Regions from separate parts of the Homo sapiens genome. Here region 1 is linked to region 2. Evidence: fine-mapped expression QTL. A gene starts in region 2. The other region holds a variant in brackets. All regions are shown on one strand. Distances are from middle to middle. Region 1 overlaps SFMBT1 (Scm like with four mbt domains 1). Region 2 holds the start of SFMBT1 (Scm like with four mbt domains 1).

The links.
Region 1: its variant is fine-mapped to the expression of SFMBT1 in whole blood (TOPMed, PIP above 0.99). The same link has a PIP of 0.9 or more in blood mononuclear cells.

The regions. Positions count from the first base shown.
Region 1 is chr3:52,975,288-52,990,478 of GRCh38, forward strand. The region is part of intron 1 of SFMBT1 (Scm like with four mbt domains 1); the gene reads right to left. Among named protein-coding and RNA genes, the nearest start is that of SFMBT1, 63 kb to the right of the region's middle. The variant C/T (reference allele first, on the strand shown) is at 8,378.
Region 2 is chr3:53,040,093-53,055,283 of GRCh38, forward strand. SFMBT1 (Scm like with four mbt domains 1) reads right to left here and starts at 5,981. Exons shown (of 21, transcript NM_016329.4): 1 at 5,724-5,981. RefSeq lists silencers at 5,020-5,309, 5,670-5,729, 5,830-6,149, 6,200-6,309 and enhancers at 6,297-6,798, 6,799-7,298.

The sequences.
Region 1 (15,191 bases), 65 kb before region 2:
TGTTAGAGAAATGGTTTTCTTCTCCAAATCCCAATAGGGCATTTTTTTTCTTCTGATTCTATGGTTGACCCAATAGGCCACTGTATTTGACTTGATAAGATAATTTTAGAATGCACCTAAGCTGGGCATAGTGGCTCACACCTGTAATCCCAGCACTGTGGGAAGGCAAGGCGGGAGGATAGCTTGAGCCCAGGAGTTGCAGACCAGCCTGGGCAATATAGTAAGACCTCATCTCTACGAAAAATTTAAAGAACCAAAATTAGCTAAACGTGGTGACACATGCCTGTAATCTCAGCTACTCAGGAAGCTGAGAATTTTTTTGTTTGTTTGTTTTGAGACAGTCTACTTCTGTTACCCAGGCTGGAATGTAGTGGCGCAATCCCGTTTTACTGCAACCTCCACCTCCCAGGCTCAAGCAATTCTCGTGCCTTAGCCTCCTAAGTAACTGGGATTACAGGTGTGTGCTACCACGCCCGGCTACTTTTTGTATTTTTGGTAGAGACAGGGTTTCACCATGTTGGCCAGGCTGGTCTCGAACTCCTGACCTCAGGTGAGTTGATCTGCTCTTGCCTCAGACTCCCAAAGTGCTGGGATTACAGGCATGAGCCACAACGCAACCAGCCAGGAAGTTGGGAATTGCTTGAGTCTGAGAGGCAGAGGCTGTAATGACCCAAGATCATGCCGCCGCACTCCAACCTGGGTGATAGAGCAAGACTGTGTTCCAAAAAAACAAAAAATAAAATGAAATGCATCTAAAAGAGAAAAAAATGGACAATCCAGCTACATTTTTGTAAAACATGACACAAGGCAAGTTCCTTCTATCAAAATATTAAGCCAGACACAGTGGCTCATGCCTGTAATCCCAGCACTTTGGGAGGCCAAGACAGGAGGATCACTTGAGGCTGGGAGTTCAAGACCAACCTGGGCAGCATAGTGAGACTCCATCTCTACAAAAAAAGTTTTTTCTCAAATCAAAATAGTGTAATATTAGCATAAGAAAAGACAAACATCAATAAAGTAAAATAAAGTTGAACAAAATAGATCAATTTTTATGAGAGTGCAGTTTGTGATAAAGAGAGCATTCCATATAAAATCGTGAAAGGATACAAACAAATAGTGTTAAAGAATTGGCTATCCATTTTGGGAGGAAAAAAAATTAGAACCTTACTTTATGCTGCCACATAAATAAATTCCAAGTGAATTAAAAGAGAAAAACATGAAAAAGAAGATTCCAAAGAAATTAAAAGAAAACATACGTGAATATGGTTATAGCCTTGGAATAGCATAGATTTCCTTAAGCAAGGAAGCCATAAAATGGATACATTTGACTAAATAAACATTTAAAACTTTCAACTGGCAAAAAGAACCATAAACAAATTTAAAAAACAAGCTACAGAAAAAAAACTATCTCCAGCGTATATAGCAGACAAAATATTAATAGCCATAATAACAGCACCTATTAGATAAATAAGACCAAACCTAATAACATGGACATTTTTTTAAAAGGTCAGATATGAACGATAATTGTAGGGAATGACTGGTAATCATATGAAAACATATTCAACCTCAACAGCTAAAATTTTATTTTTCACCCAGATTGGCAAAAACAAAAGATTAGTAACACTGAATATAGTTGAAGACATGCAGAAATGGAAGCCGTCATTATCAGTTCAGGAGCACAAATGGATATAGCCCTTTTAGACAGAAATTTTATTCTATCAAAATTTTAACTTGCATTCTCTACAACCCACCAGTTCCACTTCCAATACATTTCAGAAAAATATCCTGAGACAACAAGCAAATAAATAGCACAACAATTTCAAAGAAAGAGTTTAAACTGTCCTCATTTCAGGGCATACACAGAGAAACATCCCCATGTGTACAAAGTAGCAAGAACCAAAATGTTTGCTTGAGCAATGCCTGTATTAAGAAAAAACTGGAGGCTGGGAGCGGTGGCTAACGCATGTAATCCCAGCACTTTGGGAGGCTGAGGCAGGTGGATCACGAGGTCAGGAGTTCGAGACCAGCCTGAAAAACATGGTGAAACCCAGTTTCTACTAAAAATACAAAAAGATTAGCCAGGCCTAGTGGCGGGCGCCTGTAATCCCAGCTACTCGGGAGGCTGAGGCAGAAGAATCGCTTGAACCCAGGAGGCGGAGGTTGCAGTGAAGCGCACCACTGCACTTCAGCCCAGGCGACAGTGTGAGACTTCGTATCAAAAAAAAAGGAAAAAGAAAAAGAAAAGAAAAAACTGGAAACCTCAGGGTCAATCAATACATAATGGCACATCCACAAGATGAAAGTTAAAAAGAGTAAGACAGCTTAGTAAGCATAAAGTTCATGCTGGGGTGATGAAATAAGCTTTGGATTTGGATAGTGGTTTTATATAGATGTATACATATAACCTATATCTACATAAAACTGAACAAAAACAAAACTACGTATTTCTATAGGCACACATATATATGTGCAGATACCTTTAACGTGGTCAGGAAGAATACATCCAAATCATTAACAGGAAAGTGAGATTCAGGGGCAGGGCAAAAGGGAGTGTTTCTTTTAACAGTATTGGGTAAACTTTTTAAGATAAAAATGTACTCATATGTTTACTTCAGTGATTTAAAATTTTAAGACAAAAAATGCATTTATTGACATGGAAAGCTATTTATTCATTCTTTCAATAAATATTTACTGGAAACTTATTATGTGTCAGGCACAATAAAAAAAAATTAGAGATATATCAGTGAAGAAAACAGACCAAAATCTCTGCCCTCATGAAGCTTATATTTTAGTGTAAGGAAGAAAGTATAATACTTTTTCTAAATGTCATAAGTGATAGAGCTGGGGAGGAATGACAGTGTGGGGTGGTTAAATCGGGTAGAGAGAAAGGAGGTTTCACTGAGAAGGTAACATATGGACAAAGACTTGAGGGAGCTACAGAAGGAAAGAGCATGCCAGGCAGAGGGAAAAGCCAGCAGAAAGGGCCTAAAGGGAGAGCATGTGAGAGTGAGCTATGTTCTAGGAATAGCAGGGAGGCCAGGGTAGTTGGTGCCAAGTAAGCAAGCAAGAACAAGTAGAAGGAGAAGAGGCAGGAGAGAGGTCAACTTCACACTGCCTGCCACTCCCATGTACCTCTGTGAGTACCCCCCACCTACAGCCCTTAAGGAACTATACTTACCAGGTGACCCTACTCCTCTGGGGGTAACAAAACGTAAAGGCAATGTTGGTGGGAATGTAAAATGATGCAACCACCTGGGAAAACAGTCTGGCAGTTCCTCAGTGTTAAACATAGAGTTACCATATGGGCCAGTATTTCACTCCTCAATATATACCCAAGACATTTGAAAACATATGTCCAAACATAAACTTGTTCATGAATGTTCGTAGTATTATTTATAATAGTCAAAAAATAGAAACAAATCAAATGTATCAACCAATTAATGGTTAAGTAAAATGTAATATATCTAATATAATGGAATATTATTCAGCCATAAAAAGAAATGAAGTACGAATACATACTACAACAAGGATAACCTTGAAAATATTGTACATGAGAAGATAGACACTAAAGGCCACATATTATACGCTTCCATTTATATAAAATGACCACAGAGGCAAATTCACAGAGACAAGTGGGTAGATTGTGGTTGCCAAGGGCTGGTAGAGAAAAGGTAATGGATAACGACTACTAATATGTACAGGGTTGCTTTTGGGGGTATTAAAACATTCTAATATTAGACTGTGGTGAGAGTTGTACTATTCTGTGAATAAAAAAACTGTAAACTTTAAATAAGTGAGTTTTATGGTCTGTGAAATATATCTCAGTAAAACTATAAAAATGGTACTTATATTCAAGGACATAACTGTGCTTTTAAATAACATTTCAAATACAGAAGCCAATGACAAAAAAAAAAGAGACAAGATATCTGGGTTACCCTTAGGATATGCAACAGAAGGAGAAAGAAAATAATTTGGCTGTTACTGGTTTGTATCAGTTAAGGTAATGTTATGCTTTAACAGATAAATTTCTATTTTCAATTGCTTAATCCAACAGATATGTATTTCCCACTCAGATGAAGTCCAAACAGGTGTTCCTAATCAGTAGGCAACTCTCCACCATGTGATTATTCATGAAGCCAAAAGCCTTCCGCCACATAGCTCTACCACCTTCAACAAAGTCTTCACAAATCATTCACTGTAGGGGATCACACATGGGAGGTTTTCATGGGACAGACCTAAAAGTGGTACGTCCCTTCCACCCACATTCCACTAATTAAAATCCGGTCACAAGACCCCATCCAACTACAAAGGAAGCTGCAAACTACAGTATGGCACTTCCCACCATTAGTAACAGAGTGCTTAAATTAGTATTGCCATTCACCAGAACTTATATTAACAGTGAATAGCAGTTATTCTACTTAAAGGAGGCTTCATGAATCAATAGTAGTGATACTATGAACAGTCATGGAATTCTGTCAATAAATATTTACTGAGCACTTATTATCGCCACACCACATTTGTTCTAGGTGAAGAAATATTTTGAAACCTGCCCTCACGAATCTCATAATCTAAAGTGTGTAGATAGCCAGCAATAAAATAAATACAACTGAGCCTTGAACAACATGGGCATTAACTACATGGGTCCACTTACAGATTTTTAAAAATAACTATCTTGGAAAAATTTTTGGAGATTTATGACAATTTGAAAAAACTTGCAGACAAACCATGTAGCTTAAAAATATCAAAAAATTAAGAAAAAGGTGTGTTGTGAATGCATAAAATACATGTACCTATTAGTCTATCATTTACCACTTTTATATACAAATCTATTATTAAAAGTTAAAAAATATCAAAACTTATACAAACACAGACTGTACATGGTGTCATTCCCAGTCCTGAGAAATGTAAACAAACCTAAAGATGCAGTTTTACATCATAACTACACAAAATTAAGTGTAGTACATATTGCATCATTTGCAATATGAAATCATTTTGCAGCTATCTCCTGTTGCTATTGCCTTGAGCTCAAGTGTTGCGACTATCTCCGTAAAATGCTGTATGACACTAATCATCTCCACGTGGGCAATTCGTCTCTCCAGTAAAATGCATAAATAATATCACAATAAAAAGTGATCTCCCATGGTTCTTACACATTTTTCATGATGCTTAGTGCAGTACTGTATTTAATAACACCGTAAGACCCATAGAAAGTACCGCTAGAGATGCTGGACGTGCTTTCAAGAAGCAGAAAGAAGTGGTGACATTATAAGAAAAAGCTGGATTGCTTGATATGTACAATAGATTGAGGTCTACAGCTGCAGCTGCCTCCATTTCAAGATAAGTAAATCCAGCACAAGGACCATTGTTTAAAAAAAAAAAAAAAAAAGCAAAGGAAATTTGTGAAGCCATCACTGCAGCTACGCCAACAGGTGCAAAAACCTCGCATTTTGTGTGAATTATGTTTTTATCTCATGTTGAAAATGCAGCTTTTATGTGGGTGCACGACTGCTGTAGAAAGGCATACCTATAAACTTTCATATGATTTGAGAAAAAGCAAAGTCATTATATGACAAAGCAAAAGAAAGGTGAAGGAGTCCGGTCGCGGTAGCTCACGCCTGTAATCCCAGCACTTTGGGAGGCCGAGGCGGGTGGATCACCTGAGGTGGGGAGTTCGAGACCAGCTTGACCAACATGGAGAAACCCCATCTCTACTAAAAATACAAAATTAGCCGGGCGTGGTGGCACATGCCTGTAATCCCAGCTACTCGTGAGGCTGAGGCAAGAGAATCACTTGAACCTGGGAGGCAGAGATTGCAGTGAGCCAAGATCATGCCACTGCACTCTAGCATGGGCAACAAGAGCGAAATTCCATCTCAGAAAAAAAAAAAAAAAAGGTGAAGGATCTAAAGCTGGAGGATTTAATGCCAGCAAAGGATGGTTTGATAATTTTAGAAAGTGGTTTGGCTTTAAAACTTTAGGAGGAGAAGCAGCTTCTGCTGACCAATAGGCAGCAAATGAGTTCCCCAATGCCAGTTAAGAAAATCATTAAGGAGAAAGGATTTCCACCTGAATAGGTTTCTGTGGAATTTTTTTGAGACAGGGTCTTGTTCTGTCACCCAGGCTGGAGTGCAATGGCATGAGCTCGGATCACTGCAACCTCCACTTCCTAGGCTCAAGCAATCCTCTCACCTCAACCTCCCTAGTAGCTAAGACTACAGGCATATGCCACCATGCTCAGCTAATTTTTTTTTTTTTTTTTTTTTTACTTTTCTGCAGAGACGAGGTCTCACTACATTGAGCAGACTAGTCTGAAACTCCTGGGCTCAAGCAATCCTCCCACCTTGGCCTCCCAAAATGCTGGGATTTCAAGAATGAGCCACTGCACCCAACCTGAACAGGTTTTTAATGCTGATGAAAGTGCTCTATTTTGGGGGAAAATGTGCTACAAAGGACATTAATTAGTAAGGAGAAGAAAGTACCCGGATTTAAGGGAGGAAAGGATAGGCTAACTTGACTATTTTGAGCAAGTGCAGTTAGGTTTATAATCAGGACAGCCCGCTAACCCCCACGCCTCGAAGGGAAAAGATAAAAGCCAGCTGCTAGTTTTTTGGTTGTACATTAAGGCCTGGACAAAAAGAACCCTTTTTCTGAACTGGTTCCATCAATGATTTGTCCCTGAAGTCAGGAAGTACCTTGCCAGTAAGGGTCTGCTTTTTCAAGTTCTTTTGATATTTGACAATGCCCCCAAGCCACCCATGAGTTCAACTCACCCCATGAGTTCAACACCAAAACTGGTGAAGGGCGTCTACTTGCTCCCAAACACAATGTCTCTAATTCAGTCCCTAGATCAGGAGCTCATAAGGGCCTTTAAGGCTCATTACACACATTCCTTTATGGAAAGGACTGTCAACACTATGCAAGAGAACCCTGATAGAACATCATGAAAGTCTGGAAGGATTACACTATTGAAGATTCCATTGTTATAGAAAAAGTCCTGAAAGCCATCAAGCCTGAAACAATAGACTCCTGCTAGAGAAAATTGTCCAGATGTCCTGCATAACTTCACAGGATTGACAACAGAGCCAATCACAAAAATCATGAAAGAGGTTGTAGATACGGCCAAAAAGGTCGGAGGTGAAGGGTTAAGATATAGATCATGGGCCGGACGCGGTGGCTCACGCCTGTAATGCCAGCACTTTGGGAGGCTGAGGCGGGCGGATCACTTGAGGTCAGGAGTTCCAGACAGGCCTGGCCAACAAGGTGAAACGTCGTCTCTATTAAAAATACAAAAATTAGCCGGACATGGTGGCATATGCCTGTAATCCCAGCTACTCAGGAGGCTAAGGCAGGAGAATCGCTTGAACCCAGGAGGCGGAGGTTGAAGTAAGCTGAGATCGCGGCACTGCACTCCAGCCTGGGCGACAGAGCAAGACTCCCATCTCAAAAAAAAAAAAAAAAAAAAAAAAGATATAGATCGTGGAGAAATTCAAGAGCTAATAGATAGCACACCAGAGGAATTAACAGAAGACGACTTGATGGAGATGAATAATTCCAAAACCAGTGCCAATAAAGAAGAAGATGTAGAAGAAGCAGTGCCAGAAAATAAATCAACATTGACAATCTGGCAGAAGGGTTTGGATTACTCAGGACTGCTTTTATGACAAGATCCCTCTATGATATGGCACTGAAACTAAAGCAAACAGTGGAAGAGGAGTTGATACCATATAGAAACAGTTTTAGAGGAAGGAAAAAGCAAACATTCAGACAGAAACTATAATGTTATTTCTGAAAAGTTACACCACGTGTACCTGCCCCTCTTGCCTTCCTTTCTGCCTCCTCCCCTCTTCCACCTGTGGCACCCTAAGACAGCAACACCAACCTCTCCTCTTACTCCTCCTCAGCCTACCCAACGTGAAGATGACAAGGATGAAGACCTTTATGATGATCCACTTCCACTCAGTGAAGAGTCAATATTAATATATTTTCTCTTCCTTATGATTTTCTTTGTAACATTTTTTCTCCAGCTTACTCTATTGTAAGAAAACAGTATGTAATATATAACATATAAAATACGTGTTGATTGACTGCTTATGTTATTGTGGTAAGGCTTCTGGTCAACAGTAGGCTATTAGTAAAGTTTTTGAGAAGTCAAAAGTTATATGCAAATCTTCAACTGCGTGTGGGGTCAACACCCCTGTGTTGTTCAAGGGTCAACTATAATATGTATGTTGAATGAAAACAAATGTTAGGAGAAAAAAACTGAACAAGGGAGGAGGACAGGGAGTCCTACTTTTAACAGAGTGATCAAAGCCTTAGTGTTGAGGTAACACAAAACAACACCAGAGGGAAATGAGGAAGTGAGCCATGTGGGTACGTG[C/T]GGAAGAATATTCAAGGCAGAAAAACAAAAAGAGCAAAGTCTCTGAAGTGGGAGCTTGTGTGGCGTATTTGAGGCCACAGTGGTTGGAACAAAATGATCACAGCAGAGATGCTAGGAGATGAACTCAGGAAGCTATCAGGGAGTCATATTTTATATGAACTTGCAGGCTGCTGTGAAGATTTTGGCTTTGGGGAAGCCATTGAAGGATTCTGAGCAGAGGAGGAACATAATTTGATTTATCTTTTAAAAGGATCACTCTGCAGCTATGTGAGAAGAAAGCAAGAGCAGAAGCAGGAAGACCAACTAAAAAGACCACAGAATAATCCAAGTGAAAGGTGTTGGTGGCTAGGTCTAGGACAGGAGAAGTGAAAATGTGGAGGAAGATGTAAGATGGATTTGGTGTATGAGAGAAAGAGCAGTATCTGGGCTGACTGAAGTTTCTGGCTTAAGCAACTGGAAGGATAGAACTGCCACTTATGGAAAAAGGGAAGTCTGAAGTAGGAATGGTTTGAGGAAGAAAAATTATGATGAGCTTCAGTGCAAAATAGGGCAATATGATTACTTCCCTCACCACTAAAGGTTTGTTCTTGGAGTTTTCAGGAAAATGTTTTCAATCAACAAAAGTATAATTACTATCTGTGTAGTGTCTCCAATTTATAAGCTTTTTTTCACCCACGATGCTTCATTTGAACATCATAAAAAACTTTTTTAGACAGCAAGAATGGGGCCAATTCTTTTTTTTTTTGCCCCTTGGGAACCTCCTTGTTGGCTTCAATCCCATCTTACATTTCACGTTCTCTAGGTTTACCAATCAGCCTTGAAGGCATTTCCCCATAGCAATTCAGTAATTTATGCTGCCTTGTTTTTTAACATTCCAATTTCAACACCCACATACTTTCCAATACAGGCACTTCAATGACAAATTTTCTAGCTTTCTTTAATGTATGTCTTTCAATAATCTCAGGCATAAATAATCTTTAAAAATTCATACTATAATGAATACTATATTGAATATAGGTAATATATATTATTATAATATATACTGAATACTATACTAAATACTGTGTGTGTGTGTGTGTGTGTGTGTGTGTGTGTGTGTGTGTGTCTATTCATACTATAATGATTCATACTATAATGAGTTTGGAAATATCAGGCTGACCACCCTATAAATCCCTGGTCCACAGTTGGCTAAGTATGACCACTTCGCAGCCCGGCTTCCTTAGCAATTACTGATTAGTACCAGGATATTGAGCACCTCCTCTTTGCCAGATACCAAGACGACTAAATTGCAGTTTTGAAATTATCTTTCACTGTACCAGAATATGTCAAAAGCATTTAAAATCATTCTTTATCCTTATATTATCTTATAGGCTGGAACGGTAGCTCTTCCAGAGTTCAAATATGATTACATTTTCATCAATTAAATGCTTTATTTATGGGAGCCAGTAACATGAGCACATGTTGAAACAGTATGTCTTTGTTCTGATTAAATCAGGAGCTATTTGATTCACCAACACAAGCACTGTCAAAACATACCAATTCCAATAGTATTATAAAAAGATTATAGGAAAAGACCATGTTCAGTTATGAAAAGACTTGAAATTATTCTGTAATTTCATGGTTGCTGTTTCTCAGCTTTCTCATGTCAAGTCACAGATCAGAAACTTCATCTCAACAGAACAAATGCTTGTTAACCATTTATCAAGAAAAAAGAAAAGATTATTTGAGTACCTACTATGTATGTGCCTGGCACTTTTTATGTATTGTATACTAAATAATTAGGCACACAGAACACTGTCCAACACATGGTAAGCTTAATATTTAAGTGTTTATTATTTTTTAATAATCTTTTATTTAATCCTATTCTGCTTAACTCATACAATGATAATTCCATTTTACAGATGAGGAAAAGTTAACATGTCAGTTCATACACAGTCATGCATCGCTTAATAATGAGGATATGTTCTGAGAAATTTGTTGTTTGGCAATTTTGTCATTATTCGAACATCATAGGGTATACTTACGCAAACCTAGATGGTGCGGCCTACTATACACCTAGGCTATACGGTGTAGCCTATTGCCCCTAGGCTACAAACCTGTAGGCAACTGTAACACAATGGTAAGTATTTGTGTATCTAAACATATTTAAACATAGGAAAGGTGTAGTCAAAATATATCATAAAAGATAAAAAATGAGGCCAGGCGAGGTGGCTCACGCCTGTAATCCCAGCACTTTGGGAGGCCAAGGTGGGCAGATCATTTGAGGTGAAGAGTTTGAGACCAGCCTGGCCAACATGGTGAAACCCCGTCTCTACTAAAAATACAAAAATTAGCTCGGTGTGGTAGTGGGCGCCTGTAGTCCCAGCTACTCAGGAGGCTGAGGCAGGAGAATTGCTTGAACCTGGGAGGTGGAGGTTGCAGTGAGCTGAGATCATGCCACTACACTTCAGCCTGGGAGACAGAGTGAGACTCCGTCTCAGGAAAAAAAAAAAAAAAAAGATAAAAAATGGAACACTTATATAGGGCACTTATCATGAATGGAGCTTGCAGGACTGGGAAGTTGTTCTGGGTGAGTCAGTCAGTGGTGAGTGAATGTGAAGGCCTGGGATATTACTGTATACTACTGTAGACTTTCTAAACACTGCACATGTAAGCCACATTAAATTTGTTTTAAGAATACTTTTCTTCCTTCCATAATAAATTAACCTTAGCTTACTGTAACTTTATAAACTTTTTGATTTTTAAAATTTTTTTGACTTTCTTGTAATAACACATAGCTTAAAATACAAACACTGTATAGCTGTACAAAAATATTTTTTTGGTCGGGCGCCATGGCTCACGTCTGTAATCCAATACTTTGGGAAGCCGAGGTGGGCAGGTGACCTGAGATCAGGAGTTTGAGACCAGCCTGGCCAACATGGCAAAATCCCATCTCTACTAAAAATACAAAAAAAAAACTTAGTCGGGCAGGCATGGTGGCAGGTGCCTGTAGTCCCAGCTACTCGGGAGGTTGAGGCAGGGAAATCGCTTTAACCTGGGAGGTGGAGGTTGCAGTGAACCGAGATCGCGCCACTGCACTTTAGCCTGGTGACAGAGCAAGACTCTGTCTCAAAAAAAAAAAAAAAATTAGCAGGGTGTGGTGGCGAGTGCCTGTAATACCAGCTACTCAGGAGGCTGAGGCAGGAGAATCGCTTGAACCCGGGAGGTGGAGGTTGCAGTGAGCCGAGATCGTGCCACTGCTCTCCAGTCTGGGCGAAAGAGTGAGACTCCATCTCAAAATATATATATTTTTTCTTTATATCCTTATTCTATAACTTTTTTCTATTAACTTTTTATTTACTTGTTAAAACTTTTTGTTAAAAACTAACACAACAGCCTAGGACTACACACGACCAGGATCATCAATATCGTTGTCTTCCACCTCCACATCCTGTCCCACTGGAAGATCTTCGGGAGCAATAACATGCATGGAGCTGCCATCTCCTTGATAACAGTGCCTCCTTCTGGAATACCTCCTGAAGGACCTGTCTGAGGCTGGCTTACAGTTAATTTTTTTTTAATAAATAAAAGGCATATACTCTAAAATAATGATTTAAAAGTACAGTAAATAAACCACAGTTATATATTATGATCAAGTATTATGTACTGTACATAACTGTATGTGTTATGCTTTTATACAACTGCCAGTGCAGGTTTATTTACACCAGTACCACAACAAACACGAGTAGGTATCTCACTATGACTTTAGGATGGCTACTACATCATCATTAGGCCATAGGAATTTTTCATCTCCATTATAACTGTATGGGACCACCGTCATATATACAGGCCACCATTGACTGAAACACCATCATGCCATGCATGACTGTAGATAGGAAGCAGCAGGGGCAGCATTTGAACCCTCATCTGATCCCAAGCCTGAGCTCCTTAGTGTTTCTGGGCTCTGGGGCTTTTCTTGGAGCTCAGAGAATACAAGGATAATTGTGAGGTATGTCTTATACCATAGAGTGATGGCCCTAGATGATCTGCGCTCAAGTTGTTTTATTCATTCATTCATTTAACTTCTAAGTTCCATACTGTTCTGCTTAGAATGGTGAGTAACCAAGAGTCTGGATGGCACCTAGACAGATGCTGCCATCTATAAGCTTCTAAAATCTTATTCTAGTAGGGCCCTAAAACAGATTAATTCATATGAAAGGATACAGTACACATTTTTAAATTAAAACACATTTCCTTATTAATTCTTTAATGGAATGGAATAACACTGAATTAAGAATGGAATAACACTGAATTTAGCCAAAAGGCTAAAAAAATCAGTGTAATAAACAGCCATCATCAAAAATGTCAGAATCATCAGGAAAGCATAAAAAACAAAGTCTTTCCCCAACGGAGTAACAGGCTCTGCCTCAACCCAGAAGAGAGCTGAGGGGAAGTTATAGTGGTTGACTTAGAGAGACCCTTGGGAGGTCCAATCACTCACCAAACTTTAACTCGTGATTATAAGAGAGGATGCTCTGGGGATTTTGCTGCTTTGTATTGTTACATTAAACATACAAGCATTTTTAAAAGCTCTATGTTAGAATTTAAAGATGCCTAGACTATAGACACATATGCTGTACAATTAATTCACTGGAATTTTTTTTAAGTTTAAGGCCCTATAAGAACTAGATTATCAGTTATAAATATTGAGAACTTTTGGATAGGCTACCACCCCTCAAAAATCACGACAGGCAACCATACAGGTCAGTCCCTCAAGAACACCTCAAGAACCTGTCCCTCAAGAACGCCTCCCAACTCCAGGGTAATGCTGCTGCGAGGGTATCCTCGGGGAAACACAATGGTGAATGTCTGCTGCAAAACACTGAGCCAATACCTAAGAGGCATGCTGAACATTTAACAACAATGATACTAGGAACAAGTATTAGTTATTTAGAAAAAGTATAAATTATTTAGAACACAAAACAACTCTTCAGGAGCTTTTAAAGTAAGTGCTTCCAAAAAAGGAGTAAATCTCTGGTTACTACTAGAGATGTACTACGTAACACATTAAATCTGTAAAATAATTTGGCACAAAAAGTTAAATGGACATGAGGAAAAAAACCAGCCTAGGTTATGATAATTAATTAGGAATCTAAACAGACTTATATGCAAGATGTAAAACCAAAACCCTAACTGGCAGAATAGCAGTCTACTTACTTACCTGTTATTTCCAAAGCGCAGCAGGACACTTGGCAGCCTTCTGTTTGGTTAGTATTAGACCCTAGTCACACCTTAATAGTTGTTTTTATAGATTTCAGTACCCCCACACCTTTCAATCTAACATATGTAAACATTCTCTGAAAACCAAAAGTATCTAATGTTAAATATATAGAAATTTTTGGTTAAATCTCTACACCTGTTAAACAGAAAGATTCCTCTTCCTGATTTCTTTTCTCCACTTTTCTATTCTTTCCTTAAAAATAATTTGGTTTCTTTCCTACCACTAAATTATTATTTTGTGAACTTAAATGCAATATTACAAAGGTGGCCAGTTTTCTAAGATTAGGACTTACCAATTCCACTTTACAGTGCTTAGTACAAAATTATTGGTATAATTTTCAATCCTTAATAATACTATGCTACTAATGGTCATGTTTTCATGTGTTATAAGAAACATGCCTTTTGGGAGGCTGAGGCAGGAGAATGGTGTGTGAACCCGGGAGCCAGAGCTTGCAGTGAGCTCAGATTGTGCCACTGCACTCCAGCCTGACTCCATCTCAAAAAAAAAAAAAAAAGAAAGAAAGAAAGAAAGAAAGAAACATGCCTTCCATAAAACTATTCCTACTAATGTTCATGTTTTATAAGAAAAAAATAAGGCCAGGTGTGGTGGCTCACACCTGTAATACCAACACTTTGGGAGGCTGAAGTGGGCAGATCACGAGGTCAGGAGATAGAGAACAGCCTGGCTAACACGGCGAAATGCTGTCTCTACTAAAAATACAAAAATTAGCTGGGCATGGTGGCGCGCGCCTGTAGTCCCAGCTACTTGGGAGGCTGGGAGAATTGCTTGAACCTGGGAGACAGAGGGTGCAGTAAGCCAAGGTCACGCCACTGCACTCCAGCCTAGTGACAGAGCTAGACTCCATCTCAAAAAAAAAAAGAAAAAGAAAAAAATAGTGTTTACATAATGTATAACTTCTTTCAGCCTTGGACAAAACTATCATTGAAACAGACGTCTGAAGTCATCCAAACAGGCCGACAAGAATTTAAAACTTCATTATTTGCAAATTAACAACGAAAAAGGTAGGCTTAAGGCAGACAATTGGTTACTAATGTCTCCTTCAAAGGGAAAAAATTTCCAGCACCATCTACTAAAACTGTTCGGATATATTCCAAAGGCTAGTTGTCTTTTAGGATTTTTCTTGGGAGGGGTTGTTCATTTTAATTGTTGCATTTAAAATGTTCAAAAAATAAATGGGCTTAGTTGGTCAAAACACAACCACTCACTCAGGAAAAACATCATCATAAAGGTAAAAATAACTCAAAGCATACACCCGAAGTCATTAAAAGGTTTTTCCTCAGTTTTCTCTTATAGGATGTGAGATAAATGCAGTATTATTCTCTATTAAAGTATAAAAGACAACTCGACTCAGTTGTCTAACTCACATTAAATTCCTCCAAAATGGTATTTTGAAGAGTATCACAGGCTCAGCCACATCAAGTTTGGAATTTTGTGACACAGAGTCAGATGACAGAACACTCAGTCCTTCCTCACTTGGAAACAAAAACCAAATGCTTGAAGAGACTTAATGTCAAATCTAACTATGCAAAGTCT
Region 2 (15,191 bases):
ACCGATCCTTAAGAAAGAACACTAGAAAAAACTGAGAGACAGGAAAGCACTCTAGTCTGGGGAGCAAATTAATGTGAACAGAAATGAAGAACCAGTGGCAGCCCATGGGCAGCCTTACTACTGAGCAAATATTCCATAGTAGCCACCTCAAATGCTTTTTTAAAAACTCTTCAGGGTATAAAAAATAATAATTTGGAATTCAAATCTGAGTACTTGTTGGCTAACACTTTAAATTGAATATCAGCAAGAAAAACTCCTGAGGCATTTTAGTAATTGCTAAATTTCTCATCCCAGCTCATGTTGTCATTCCAAATGTGTGACTGTCCCACACTTTCAACTGCCAACAAACCACCTTCCAACTCTCATCTAAGATCCTCTCCAAATACCATCTCAGACAGAACCCAAGTTTCCCAGATAAACAGATACTGACACTTAACAACCCTATCTGCCCCACATCAGTTTAATAATTAACCTTTCTCTAGACTAAGCAAAAACATCAAAAAAGAACCAATGCACCAGACCAGTATGCCAGTTAAAAAAAAAAAAAAAGACCCAATGCACACAGTACTGTGCATCATGTTGGAAATATCACCTTATAGCCTCTCTCTGCATAGTGACATGCTTGGCTCACTGAAGTTACTCAACTGTTCAAACCACAGAGTTCAACAGGTACTTAACACATCATTTAACACACAATATACAGACTACTTTTTTTTTTGTTTTTATTTATTTTTTTGAGACAGGGTCTCGCTATGTCACCAGGCTGAAGGGGTGTGATCACAGCCCACTGCAACGTCTGTCTCCCTGGCTCAAGAGATATACCTGCCTCAGCCTCCCGAGTAGCTGAGACTACAGGCATGCACCAAGACACCTGAATTTTTTTTTTTTTTTTTTTTTTTTTTTTTTTTTTTGTAGAGACAGGGCTTCCCTATGTTGTCCAGGCTGGTATCAAACTCCTGGACTCCAGAGATCTGCCTGCCTTGGTCTCCCAAAATGCTGGGATTACAGGTGTAAGTCACTGCGCCCGGCCTATTTTTTGTTTTTAAATAAATTCCTTGAGTGACTGCCTGAAGACAAAAGAGAACTAAATAAGGTTATAAACATCCTCTTGAATAAAAGAAAGAATAATTACATACACGTTTTCAGGTGTCTCTGAGTTAGAGGAAAAGGTTTACAATCAAATCATTAAGACTTATGCAGTGAAGTCATATGATTTTTCTATTAATAATGTGTCAGTGTTCTTATCCTTCCTCCCCCTTTTGAAAAGTTTAAACATGAATCTGCAACAACCTGACCACATTCTTTCTATTTTAAATCATTTTCCGCGAGGCGCGGGGGCTCATGCCTGTAATCCCAGCACTTTGGGAGGCCAAGGAGGGTGGATCACCTGAGATCAGGAGTTCAAGACTAGCCTGACCAACATGGTGAAACCCCATCTTTACTAAAAATACCAAAATTAGCCAGGAATGGTGGTGCATGCCCATAATCCCAGCTACTTGGGAGGCTGAGGCAGGAGAATTGCTTGAACCCAGGAGGCAGAGGTTGCAGTGAGCCATGATCGTGCCATTGCACTCCAGCCTGGGCAACAAGAGTAAAAGTCTGTCTCAAAAAAAAAAAAAAAAAAAAAAAAAAAAAAAAATTCTTTTCCAATGAGGTTAGTATCCCCTGAAGAATGGGAGACTCCTATCAAAATCCCACTCCCCAAACTCTAATGGTTTAAAATCTCGCAAGTAACCAAAATCCCCACACACTTTTATCCCATTTAATAACTATGTATATACAGAAATATTATTTTCAAATACAAAATATCCCAGTTAGGTAACGAATGCTATATACTAAAAGAAAAATACTCTGCCATAAGGAAGTTGTATCATTTACTCATTACAAGTTCTTTTATTTTATGTTATTCCAAAATATTGGTTATAAGCCAAATAATCCAAGAAAGCAAAATTTTGGAAAATTATAAGAGAAAAAATGTAACATTAAAAATATTAAAGATGTAAAATGTCTGCCTAAATAATGGCCTTTTGGTTTTTGGACTGTATCTATTTACTTAATGTGAACATAACATGACGCCAAAATAAAAAGCCAATGAAGTTTGTATAGTTCATCTTTTCTACAGACTTTAGAGTTAAATGATACCTGCTGCTACACCACCATTCCACAGCTAAACCCAGTCTAGGTATCACTGTGAAAGCAAAAGTATACTACAGAAGCAGGAAGATTATGGATAGGCAAATCATACTGGGTTGGTTGGTTTGTTTTTTGAGACAGTGTCACTCTGTTACCCAGGCTGGAGTGCAGCAGTGCAATCATAGCTCACTGCAGCCTCGAACTCCTGGGCTCAAAGGATCCTCCCACCTCAGCCTCCTGAAGAGCTGGGACTATAGGTGCCCACCACCGCGCCTGGCTAATTTTTTTATTTTTTTGGAGACACAGGGTCTCCCTTTTCTTTCATCCAGGCTGGCCTCGAACTCCTGGTCTCAAGCGATCCTCTTGCCTAGCCTCCCAAAGTGCTGGGATTATAGGCGTGAGCCACTGTGCCTAGCCAGCAATCATTTTTAAAAGGAAAAATCTGAGTTTACAACAAAACAGCAAAAAAAGGAAATTCCCTTTCATTGTGTATTTTGTTTCTCGTGTATCTCTTTAGTTGCTTCTCTTAAAAATGTAATAGATTTTAAATTAAACAATCTGATCACATAAAAGTCAAGAAATTTAAAAAGAGCCACAAAAAGAAACAATGTATCAATAATAGCTAAGTCATCAATTACTCTCTTGGCTAATGAGGCTGTGAATCTTGGGTGGAGTGACCAAATCCAGCTTAGTTGCTGGTCAGTCAGTTGGCTGGCTAGCTTAACACGGGAAAGACAGAATTATTCAGCGAAATCATTTCACAAAAGAAAACCTTTTAACTTTGTGGACTATTCCCCATGGATCCCTACACCACAGGCCTTAGAACATTCCCAACTTTTATCACACAGATATCTTTGCAGTAAAAAACACAAGCCTTTGTTAGGAACTAACAAAATAAGAATTCACTTACAACATCTAACCCATCTCCTTTACAGTAGGAACAAGAAAAGGCACAAGACGACATTGGTGAAGGAAATGCAAATTGTTGCAGCATTTGCTTCAGTGGAGAATATTTAAAAGTCCACCTTCCTAGAAAGAGGGTTAATAAAAAAAAAAAGGTATCTTAGTCATGCTGATTTTTTTAATCACACCTGACATAATTTTTAGTTAACCTTTTGTTTTTGCTTTCATTGTTGCACTTTAAATGATTTGATAAACCAGCTGACTATCCTGTATATATAAGTCAACTGCTGTCATTGAAAAGGTTGTTAAAGCTTTACGCACACATTCTTAATTCACTTAACTTTAAGAAACCAATTTTCATTCAATTTTCTCAGCAAATTCTAGGCATTAAGAAACTGATTCATCTACTGACACCTTAAACTCTAACTTGTTAGGAAAATTCATGATTCATTCTTCAAATCTGTTGTCTACAAATATATAGTACCTATATTCTAAAAATGGGAAGTCATAGATTAATACCATTGTCTGTGAACATAAGGACTCCCAAGAACTACCAATCGTAACCTGCAAAGTATTGCCCCCACTGAAAAGTGACCTTCTAAGAAGTTCCTCAGGACAGAATTTTAAGTTATTCTGGATTACAAAAACCCTAAGAATCATTATAAAAGCAAAGGGTCATGGCCAACACGGCCATAACTCCAAGTTTACATACAAGCTATCCTCAGTTTGTTAGTATTGCCCCTTTAACCCTCAAAAGGGTCCTGTTTTGAGGCAAAACTCATCTGTGGTGACAGAAGTCAGAATTGTGGTTGCCTTGGGGAGGGGGAATGTGTTTACTGAATGGAAAGGATACAAGGCCTGAAAATGTTCCATATCTTGATCTGAGTGTGGTTATCAGGGCATATACATATATAAAAAGTCATTGAATTGTACCCTTAAGATCTTTCGGTAGGTTATACATACCTCCATAAAAATACATTGTTAAAAATCTATTCAAATAATCATATAAAACCATTCTGGATCTAGCTACCAAGATGTTTTTTCCAAATGAATTTTAATAAAGACACACATTGCGAGCACTTTTATGTAGTACCTCTCAAAATATACACTGTGATTTCTAAGAATCTTTCAGTTAAGAAAGCCACCGAATTTTCGAACTGAAAGCACCCCCAAACATCATCTGTTTATCTTAATGTTGCAAATAAGGAAAATCAAAGCTACAATGGGTAAGAAATGTGCCCAAGATAAGGCAGTTAGTCAATGACAACGGTAATAACAGAACTGTTTCCTGATCTCTGGCCGTTTCTACCAGGCCGTAACTTTTCTGACATCGCAAACAAATCTTAACTCCGAATCTACCTACGGCCTAATTCAACAAATGCCTCAAAACGCTAGTCAACAGGCCTCAAAGTGTACACATGAAGACACATCTTCCTTCATCCTCTCGCCAGTTGACAAATTAATGATTACACGTTCAGGCATTTTACCCAGATGCAATAAAATTAAGAATGACATCTTAGAAAATGTGGTTCAAGAGAAGACATACGCAGGGATTGACAAAATCCATCTTACTTCCTTTCGAATCTCTTTGATGGTTACTTGGTTCTCAAACACAGATCACTGCTAACAGGACTCAAAAACACCACTTGGGACCATCAACCAGTGCTGCTTCGGGCGACCCGCTGGGAACACCCCCACCTGACCCAAGCGTCCACCACTCCTTGAGCACAAGCTCTGGGGGTGACCTGTGCCTGCCGGCTTAGTTTTAGACCCTACGGGAACAGCTGACATCTTGTGAAAAACTTAGCATAACGTACATCCTTTCCGCGGGAATTTATTTCTGTTCGCACAAGGCGTTTCTGCTCCGCACAGAGCAGGCCTTGCTTCCCAGGACGCCGCTCGCCCCTCCACAGCCTCCTTTTCAGCGTCCAAAATCGGACTTTAGGAACAGAAATCGAAACGGTCGCGGACCTCCCGAGCGGCAGGTCGGGGCGCTGCCGGGTCGGCGCGGGGTCCAGCGGCGGTGCCCGGCGGGCCGCGGCGCGGGAGAGGCCCGCTCACTTCACAACGGCGGCCCGGAGCCACCGGTTGCGGCGGCCACTAGACGCTCCGCCACCGCGCAGCGACCGCCCGGGCCCTCCGAAGTTCCGACCGGCCGCGCGCCCGGCCCCAGCTGCGGGTTCGCGCCCCGCCCGGAGCGAGCCCGGGGGGCGGGTCCGCGGGGGCTCGGCGGGCGGAGCGCGGGGCGCGCGCGGGGAGGGGCGCGCGGCGGGCCCGGCGCGCCGGGGAACTTGGGCGCCCGCCACTGCCGCCGCCCGGCCACTTTCCTTTCACGCCTCCCGCGGGCTGACGCGCGCCGCGCTGCCTGCCAGGGGCTGACGGCCGCCGCCGCTCTCCGCCGCGGCGAGGCGCCCAGGCGCGCCCCTGCAGCCGGCCGGCCGGCGCGCGGGACCGCGGGGCCGCGCGCGGGCGCCGCGCTCCCCCCGCCCCGCCCCCGCCCCCAACGTGCCGCCGCCGCCGCCCGTTGGCGCCTCAGCCCGCGCGCCCGCCGGCGCCCGGCGGTTTCCCGTTGGCAAAGTTGCGCGGCCGCTTCGAAGGGGACGCCGTACGGTCCCCCGCCCCGGCGCCGCCGCCGCCCCTCCAGGCCGCCGCGCGGGAAGGCCCAGCCGGTGGCCCCGCTTTTTTACCTGCCCGGAGTTTTCGCGCGCGCGCTCGCTCGATCGCTCGCTTTTCCCCCTCTCGCGCTCGTTTTCTTTCTTTCTTTCCGTCTTTTCGCTCCCCCGCGCGGAAGCTTTTTCCTCCCGTGCTGCCCGCGCTCGCCCGCTCGCGCCCTCCTTCCTGCTGGGTTCGGCGGAGCGGGGCGGCCGGCAGCTCTCCCCGCCCCCCTCCACCCGCGCTCCGGCGGAGGCGGCGGCGGCGCTCCGCGCTCCGACTCATTCCAATATGGCACGGACGCAGGGCGCATGCGCCCGCGCCCCCCCACCCCCAGCTCCGCGGTCCTCCAGGCAGCCTGCGCCCCTCGCGCCGCGCCCGTGGAGCTCCCGGGCCCGGCTGCCCCGCTCCCGCCCCAGCGCCATCCCTCCTGGCTGGGGCCGCGCGGGAGGCAAGGACTCCGCGGGCTGGTGTGCCGGGGGTCCGGCGCCGCGGGCCACCCACGCCCCCAGCCAGCAACTCGGCGCGGACGGCCCCGAGGCCGTGGCGCAGGACACGCGGCGGCGCCTCGGGCCCCCGACGGCGCTGTGGCCCCGAGCGGAACGGCCCGGAAGAGGAGACGCGTCCCCGGGAACCCAGTGCCCGCCCTGGCCCAGCCCCGATCCAGCCTGCGCCTCACCTCGGGTTGTAGACAGAGCGGCGGGGATCCCAGAGGGGTTCGCGGGTCGGACCTGGAGTACCGGCCCGGCGAAGCGCGCCGCTGTCGCCCGCACGTGACTGGCTCGGACAAGATGGCATGAGCGGAGAAGCGGCCGGATCCCAGATGCGCGCGTGCCGCCGCCGCGGGCACTGCGCCCGTTTGCCTGCCCCTCGTCGGGGATCGGGCGCTCCCTCTGAGACCTGAAAGGGCACCCAAGTGCCCCCTGTCTGCGAAGTCCGGCGCGGGCCCTTCGGCGCCCCCGATGTCTCTAGGCTTCCGCAGGAGGCGCCCTGTAAATCTTGAGTCTTCCTGCAGCGAGGGGGCACAGGACAGCTGCGAATTGGGACGAACGAGCCCAGAGCCCCGGGAAGGATCAGAACCTCGAAGGCGGCTTCAAGTCGGCCCCGCAGCCCGAGGTGACCGTGGGCGGTTACGTTGCCCGAGCTCGCCCCCTCCTCCTGAGCGCAGGTGCCCGTGGGACATACACCCGCCCACCTGCTCCGGAAAGTTCCCTCCAGAAGGGAGTTCCCGCGCCACCGAGACCCGGGAGCTCCCGATCAGACTCCCAGGCCGTGAAAGGCGTTATCGGACAGGGCCCAGAGGCGCCCCCACAGCAAGAAGAAAGTCTGGGGTTCTCACCGTGTGCCAGGTGCGAGCTCAAGCCACCTCCCTCAACCGCTCTGAGAAATATCCCACTTCACAAACTTGCTCAAAGTCACGCTGCTGGCTGGATTTGAATCCAGATTTTTTTTAGCACCACTGAAAAAACAATATGACAACCGGAGAAAGAAAAATCTAAAAAGAATACAGTAATCCATATTGTTACAAAGAAATGCAACTTTTCACGACATGAAACATATATATACTGTGTATAGTTGCAACCACACTTTTTTTGTTACTACTTTCACTACCATTTTTATTTGTTCACGATTCATTTTTAAGGTGTGCAGGTGTCCTTAACTATTCACTCAGCCCCCTAATGTTTTTGGTTCTTTACGGTTGTTTGCTAACGTATCCTTGAATTCTGCACTTGGGACAAATACCTGGGAGTGGAAAGGCTCCCAGGTAGAAGGCTATGAATGGCCAAGTGGTCTTGGCTTACAGCGTCATATTTTTCCCAAGAGCTGCCCCAATTATTCTACCGCCTCCAAGGAACAAGTGTAAGGAGTTTAACACACTTATAAACATTGAGTGCCATTTCCCCCCTACTTTAATAGTCTATTGCTAGTTCAAGGTTACTTAGCATTTCTTAGGTGACACAACATTCAAAAATGAATGTTTTTCCATGCATTTACTATATGCATTCCCTCTCCTGTGAATAATCTATTCATATCCATCTTCTGGGGACTTGAACCTCTTCTAACTTTGAACAAGCATTTTTTTATGTTACAGATATTACTTCTTTGTCGTCATTGATGCAAATATTTTCTAGCCTGTTGTTCTTTCTTGTTTTATTCTAATGTTCAGTGTGTCATTCTAATGTTTTAATTGCTTCAGTGCTGACAAAGTGAGCTTTCTGCTGCCCATCTGATAGTCTTTTTTCTGCTAGTTTTGTACAATTTCATTTCATATTTCATTCTCTGATGACTATCCCGATTTTATTTTGGCTTATTTATTTGGAGTAAAATATGGACATAACTCACTACCACTGTCATCGGTTGTTATTAATTCTGCAGTTACCATTTATTAAATAATTATTGACCAGACGTGGTGACTTACACCTGTAGTCCTAGCATTTTGGGAGGTTGAGGCAGGAGGATCACTTCAGGCCAGGAGTTTTAGGCTGCAGTGAGCCGTGATTGTGCCAGTGCACTCCACCTGGGTGACAGAGCAAGACTCCATCTCAAAAAAAAAAAAAAAGGCCGGGCGCCATGGCTCACGCCTATAATCCCAGCACTTTGGGAGGCCGAGACGGGTAGATCACGAGGTCAGGAGATTGAGACCATCCTGGCTAACACAGTGAAACCCCGTCTCTACTAAAAATACAAAAAAATTAGCCAGGCATGGTGGCGGGCGCCTGTAGTCCCAGCTACTCCGGAGGCTGAGGCAGGAGAATGGCGTGAATCTGGGAGGCCGAGCTTGCAGTGAGCTGAGATCGCGCCACTGCACTCCAGCCTGGGCGACAAAGCGAGACTCCAACTCAAAAAAAAAAAAAATTCCTTTGTTTAGTAAAATCTACTTTTACGCTAGACTTTCTATTTTGATTAATATATTTCTGAATTCTCCATTTCCTTCCTTAGACCTCAGTTTGAGCAAATACCATATGAATCTAAATATTGGTTCTTTGGAATAGGTTCTAACATATGAAAAGGCTTGATTCCCTCTCATGCCCTTATGAGGTCTTCTTTTTTCAGATTATCAGTTGATATCCACACTGGTTTATGTGTCTCTACACATCCTAGGATAATCATATAAGGGTTAAGAGGACTGGCTTTGAGGACGGACCATCCAGGTTCAACAACCAGCCCTGTGACCTTGGCAACTTATCTATCCCCTCTGGGCCTTCAGGTCTTGGTCTGTAAAATTAGGATAAGAGTAACAGCTGCCTCTGGCCTGGCGCAGTGGCTCACGCCTGTAATCCCAGCACTTTGGGAGGCCGAGGTGGGCAGATTACGAGGTCAGGAGATCGAGCCCATCCTGGCTAACATGGTGAAACTCTGTCTCTACTAAAAATACAAAAAAATTAGCCAGGTGTAGTGGTGGGCGCTTGTAGTCCCAGCTACTCGGGAGGCTGAGGCAGGAGAATGGCGTGAACCCGGGAGACGGAGCTTGCAGTGAGCCAAGATCGTGCCACTGCACTCCAGCCTGGGTGACAGCAAGACTCCAACTCAAAAAAAAAAAAAAAAAAAAGATTAACAGCTGCCTCACAAGCTCAACGCCTAGGACATAGTAAAAGTTTTGTAAATGTTAGCTATTGTTAATGATTTTTTTGAGACAGAGTCTCGCTCTGTCACCCAGGCTGGAGTGCAGTGGTGCAATCTTGGCTCACTGCAACCTCTGCCTCCTGGGTGCAAGCGATTCTCCAGCCTCAGCCTCCTCAGTAGCTGGGATTACAGGCGCACGCTACCACACCCGGCTAATTTTTGTATTTTTAGTAGAGACGGGGTTTCACCATGTTGGTCAGTCTGGTCTCGAACTCCTGACCTTATGATCCACCCGCCTCAGCCTCCCAAAGTGCTGGGATTACAGGTGTGAGCCACCGCACCCAGCCTTTTTAAAATTTTTTTTGAGAGAGGGTCTCACTCGGTCACCCAGGCTGCAGTGCAATGGTGCTATCATGGCTCACTGCAGCCTCTACCTCCCAGGCTCAAGCAGTCCTCCCGCCTCAGCCCCGAGTAGCTGGGACTACAGGTGTGCACCACCATGCTCAGCTAATTTTTGTATCTTTTGTAGAGACAGGATTTTGCCATGTTGCCCAGGCTGGTCTTGAACTCCTGGGCTCAAGTGATCCACCCGCCTCAGCCTCCCAAAGCGCTGGCCACCACGTCCGGTCCTATCTTTCAATTTATTCAAATATTGTAAAACTCTCTTGCCTTTCTCCAGTGCTCACCTTCATGACCCCTAAGGAAGAAGAACAGAGAACTCAAGGAACAGTTTAAAACTGTCTGCACATCTGACTTGTGTCAGACACTGTGTAGATGTGGGTGTGGGTATGCACATGTGCAGTTGGACAGAATCTCCTTTAACTCTTGCAACATCCTTTAGGACAGGCCGTAACATTCCCTACGGACAAAGAGCAAACTGAGAGCTTCCAGGTCATCCTTAAAGAGAAGCAAAACTTAGCCACAAACCTGGCATGCCAGCTTCTCAACCACGCTACTGGGAAATTCGAGTTGGGGATTGTTGACCGAAGATGCAGCCCCAGAGGCGCACGGAACGAGGGGTAACTTATGGAAAACTGACTTCTGGTCATGACTCACCCCAGTTGAAAGCCTTTCAAGGTTCTCTATTGCACTTTGCAGAAGTCCAAAAGCCTCACTTTGGCCTATAAGGCACCAGGGCCAGGTGCGGTGGCTCAAGCCTGTAAGCCCAAAAGTTTGGGAGCCCAAGGTGGGCGGATCATGAGGTCAGGAGTTCGAGACTAGCCTGGTCAACATGGCAAAACCCCATCTCTACTAAAGATACAAAAAATTAGCCGGGTGTGGTAGCACACACCTGTAATCCCAGCTACTCGGGAGGCTGAGGCAGGAGAATCACTTGAACCTGGGAGGCAGAGGTTGCAGTGAGCTGAGATGGCGCCATTGCGCTCCAGGCTGGGCGACAGGGTGAGACCCCCGTCTCAAAAAAAAAAAAAAAAAGGACTGGCCCTGGCCTGGCGCAGTAGCTGATACCTGTAATCCCAACACTTTGGGAGGCTGAGGTGGGCAGATCACGAGATCAGGAGTTCAAGACCAGCCTGGCCAACATGGCAAAACCCCATCTCTACTAAAAATACAAAAAATTAGCTGGGCGTGGTGGTGCGCGCCTGTAACCCCAGCTACATGGGAGGCTGAGGCAGGAGAATTGCTTGAAGCCGGGGGGGGCGGAGGTTGCAATGAGCCAAGATCGTGCCATTGCACACCAGCCTGGGTGACAAGAGCGAAACTGTGTCTCAAAAAAAAAAAAAAGACTGGCCTGGCCCACCTTCACCTGTCCCATTCAGCTGTCCTACTCACCTGCCTTGCTTGCTGTATTTTAGCTGCACCTGTCTCCTTTCCATTTCATGGGTATGTCACTGTCCTTCCCACTGGCACACTCCCCATCCCACTTCCTGCACCCACCTTTACATAGGTGACACCTTATTGTTCCAGTATCTGCTTAACAAGATGGTCTCCTCAGAGAGGCTTTCCCTGCCCACCCCATCTGAACAGGTTCTCTCTCTCCCCAGTGGTGATATTTCTAATTTATACCTGCATTTGTTTGTCATTTATTTGGGTTCTGTCCCCCCTGTAATCCCACAGATGGACATCAGTCCCCTTGAGCACAAAGACATGCCTGTCTCCATAACCATGAGGTCAGCCCTTTCCCCAAGAGGCAGTGGGAAGACAAGAGGGTGGCTAGTGGGTCATTTGGCAGCATCCAAGACCAGAGGCTGGCACACCCAGGAGGCATCCTGGGCATTCCCAACTTAGTCTCCACTTCCTGCTGGCTTCATGGGTTAGGGGTTGTAACCCTCTGTCATCATTGACCAAGGGGTCAGTGTTCAACCATTCTATATGAACCCCCTATGCCCTGAGGCCTTGCCTGCCCATGAAGCAGGCCTGTTTTCTGCAGGTGGGCATCAACCTGGGGCCTTGTACTGGATGAGAACCTGAGGGCCAGGCCTGGACCCTGGGGACTGGCAGAACCCTTGGCCAGGACATCATGCTGTTTTCAACCCATGAAGAACTGAATGAAATTCCACAAGCCAGCCAGGCCTGCTGTCAGTGATCAGCGGCCCTCCATTGCCACTGACCTGACCAGCCAGCTTCCTTCAGTCAATCCAAATGAGGCCAGTCACATAATGACTCCCTGTGGCTAATTACCCAAGCAATCAGGTGATCCCCACTGTAGAGTCACTGCTCACCCCATGCCATTCTTCACTGAGGTCCAACTGACTATGCTGGCCCTGCTGCCTCGGGAGCACAGACCATGACTCCACATTCTCTGTAACACCTGCCCTGCTTCCCTCCATGTCTTGGCTCCTGCAAACCCTGCTCCACCAGGTGTCCTTCTCACCTACGCTGTGTTGTCAGGGAAAAAACAATGGGTGTGGAGGCAGACAGCTGGAGTCAAGTTCAGAGTTAGTCACTGCTTCTCTATGAGACCTTCTATGGGACCCTTCACCACTCTGGGCTCAGTTTCCTCATCTTTGTAAAATGGGGAGGAAATCAGCTTCTTTGCTGGGTCATAGGAATCCAAGAACAAAATGTGTATAAACATTCTTTGCAAACTGTAAAGCACAACAGAATGATGAGAAATAGTTGTCCTGACCTCAAAGCCATCTCCTCCAGGAGGCCTCCCAAGATTGCTCCCCTTCTTTCTCTGTCTTCCTAAAGCACTTAGCTTGCTTTTCCTCAGTTGCTTACCACAGAACAGGCACTGGCCCTCTTGACCCCGTTTTCTATCCTTGAGTGCCACAAGCCCAGGATTATGTCCCCATTCATCCCCAAAGACCGCTTCTCTTGGAGAAAATATATTAATGGGCACAGTGTTCCAATTTTATGTTATTGAGCCATGCATTTTTCTTAAATTATTTTGCACCTTCAACTTCTTATCCGCTAATAAGAGGTCACAGGCACCAAATAAGTGACCAAGGACGCTCAGCAATACCGGAAAAAAGAGGGAGCAGTTCTTTGGGTTGGAGGTTGGAGTGTCTTTTTTTTTTTTTTTTTTTTTTTTGAGACGGAGTCTCGCTCTGTCTCCCTCTGTGGATCACTTGAGCTCATGAGTTTGAAACCAGCCTGGGCGACATGGTGAAACCCCACCTCTACAAAGAATACAAAAATTAGCCAGGTGTGGTGGTGCACACCTGTAGTCCCAGCTACTTGGGAGGCTGAGGTAGGAGGATGGCTTGAACCTGGGAGGTGGAGGTTGCAGTGAGCTGAGATGATGCCACTGCACTCCAGCCTGGGCAATAGAGCCAGACCTTGTCTAAGAAAAAGAAAAAAAAATTGTATGAGGAATGTATACAGTGACTGGGACAGAGGACACAAACTGGTAGGCCCTGTGTCAAATGTGGCCCAGATGGCGCTTTGCTGTTGTTGTTGTTGTTTTATTTTGTTTTGTTGCTTTTTTTGTGAGACAGGCTCTTGCTCTGTCACCCAGGCTGGAGTGCAGTGGCACAATCATGGCTCACTGCAGCCTTGATCTCCCAGGCTCTAGTGATCCCTCCACCTCAGACTCCCAAGTAGCTGAGACTACAGGTACGTGCCACCATGCCTGGCTAATTTTCGTATTTTTTTAGAGATGGGGGTCTCACTATGTTGCCTAGGCTGGTCTCAAACTCCTAAGCTCAAGTGATCTGCCCCGCATTGGCCTCCCAAAGTGCTAGGATTACAGGCATGAGTGTGGCCAAGATTTTTTTACAATACTTTTTTTTTTTAGGTATAATTTGCATACAATAAAATATACCCATTTTGGGCTGTGTGCGGTGGTTCACGCCTATAATCCCAACACTTTGGGAGGCTGAGGTGGGCAGATCACATGAGGTTGGGAGTTTGAGACCAGCCTGGCCAACATTGTGAAACCTCATCTCTACTAAAAATACAAAAATTAGCCAGGTGTGGTGGTACACGCCTGTAATCCCAGCTACTCGGGAGGCTGAGCCATGAGAATCCCTTGAACCCAGGAGATGGAGGTTGCAGTGAGCCAAGATCACCCCACTGGCCTCCAGCCTGGGCGATAGAACAAGACTCTGTCTCAAAAAAAAAAAAAAAAAAAAAAAAAAAAAAATATATATATATATATATATATATACATATACCTATTATATAAGTGTAGAGTTCTCTGAGTGCTCACAGAGGTGCAGCCCATGTAACCACCACCACGAAGACACAGAGACTTCTTTTTTTTTTTTAAGGGAGTCTCTCTCTGTCACCCAGGTTGGAGTGCAGTGTTGTAATCTCGGCTCACTGCAACCTCCGCCTCCCAGGTTCAAGCAGTTCTTCTGCCTCAGCCTCCTGGGTAGCTGGGATCACAGGCACGTGCCACAATGCCCGGCTAATTTTTGTATTTTTAGTAGACGGGGTTTCACCATGTTGGCCAGGCTGGTCTCGAACTCCTGATCTCAAGTGATTTGCCAGCCTCGGCCTCCCAAAGTGCTAGGATTACAGGCGTGAGCCACCGCTCCTGGCCAACACAGAGCCTTCTAATGACTCCCCTCACCCATAGGCAAACACTGATCTGATTTCTAGTTTCAAGATTACTTTTGCCTGTTTTTATAAACTTCATCATAGGCCGGGCACAGTGGCTCATGCCTGTAAACCCAGCACTTTAGGAGGCCGAGGGGGGAGGATTGATTGAGGCCAGGAATTCGAGACCAGCCTGGGCAACATAGCAAGACCCCATCTCTACAGAAAATTTAAAAATTAGCCAGATGTGGTGGCCCAAGCCTGTAGTCCTAGCTACTCTGGAGGCTAAGCTGCGAGGATCACTTGAGCCTGGAGGTCAAGACTGCAGTGAGCTGTGATTGTGCCACAGCACTCTAGCCTGGGTGACAGAGTGAGACTTTGACTCAAAAAAAAAAAAAAAGAAAAAGAAAAAAAGAAAAAAAAAGAAAAGAATAAAGAAAGAAAAGACAAGAAAAGACAAGAAAAAAATTTCATCATAGAGCAATACTCTCTGTCTGTTTTTTATTATTATTTTTTGTTCAGCTCCTCCAAGTAGCGATCCTGTCTGGTTGCTTTTTTCTTTGTTGTTGTTGTTGTTGTTGTTGTTGTTGTTGTTGTTTTCGAGACGGTGTCTCACTCTGTCGTCCAGGCTGGAATGCAGTGGTGCCATCTCAGCTCACTGCAGCCACTGCCTCCCAGTTCAAGCAGTTCTCCTGCCTCAGCCTCCCGAGTAGCTGTGATTACAGGTGTGAGTCACAGCACTCAGCTAATTTGTGTGTGTGTGTGTGTGTGTGTGTGTGTGTGTGTGTGTGTGTTTTCAGTAGAGACAGGGTTTCTCATGTTGGCCAGGCTGGTTTTGAACTACTGACCTCAAGCGATCCACCTATCTCAGCCTCTCAAAGTGCTTGCATTACAGGCGTGAGCCCCAGTCCCTGTCTACCTTTTTGTTTTGAGACAGGGTCTCACTTCATTGGTGCAATAATTGTGCACTGCAGCCTCTAACTCTTGGCTTC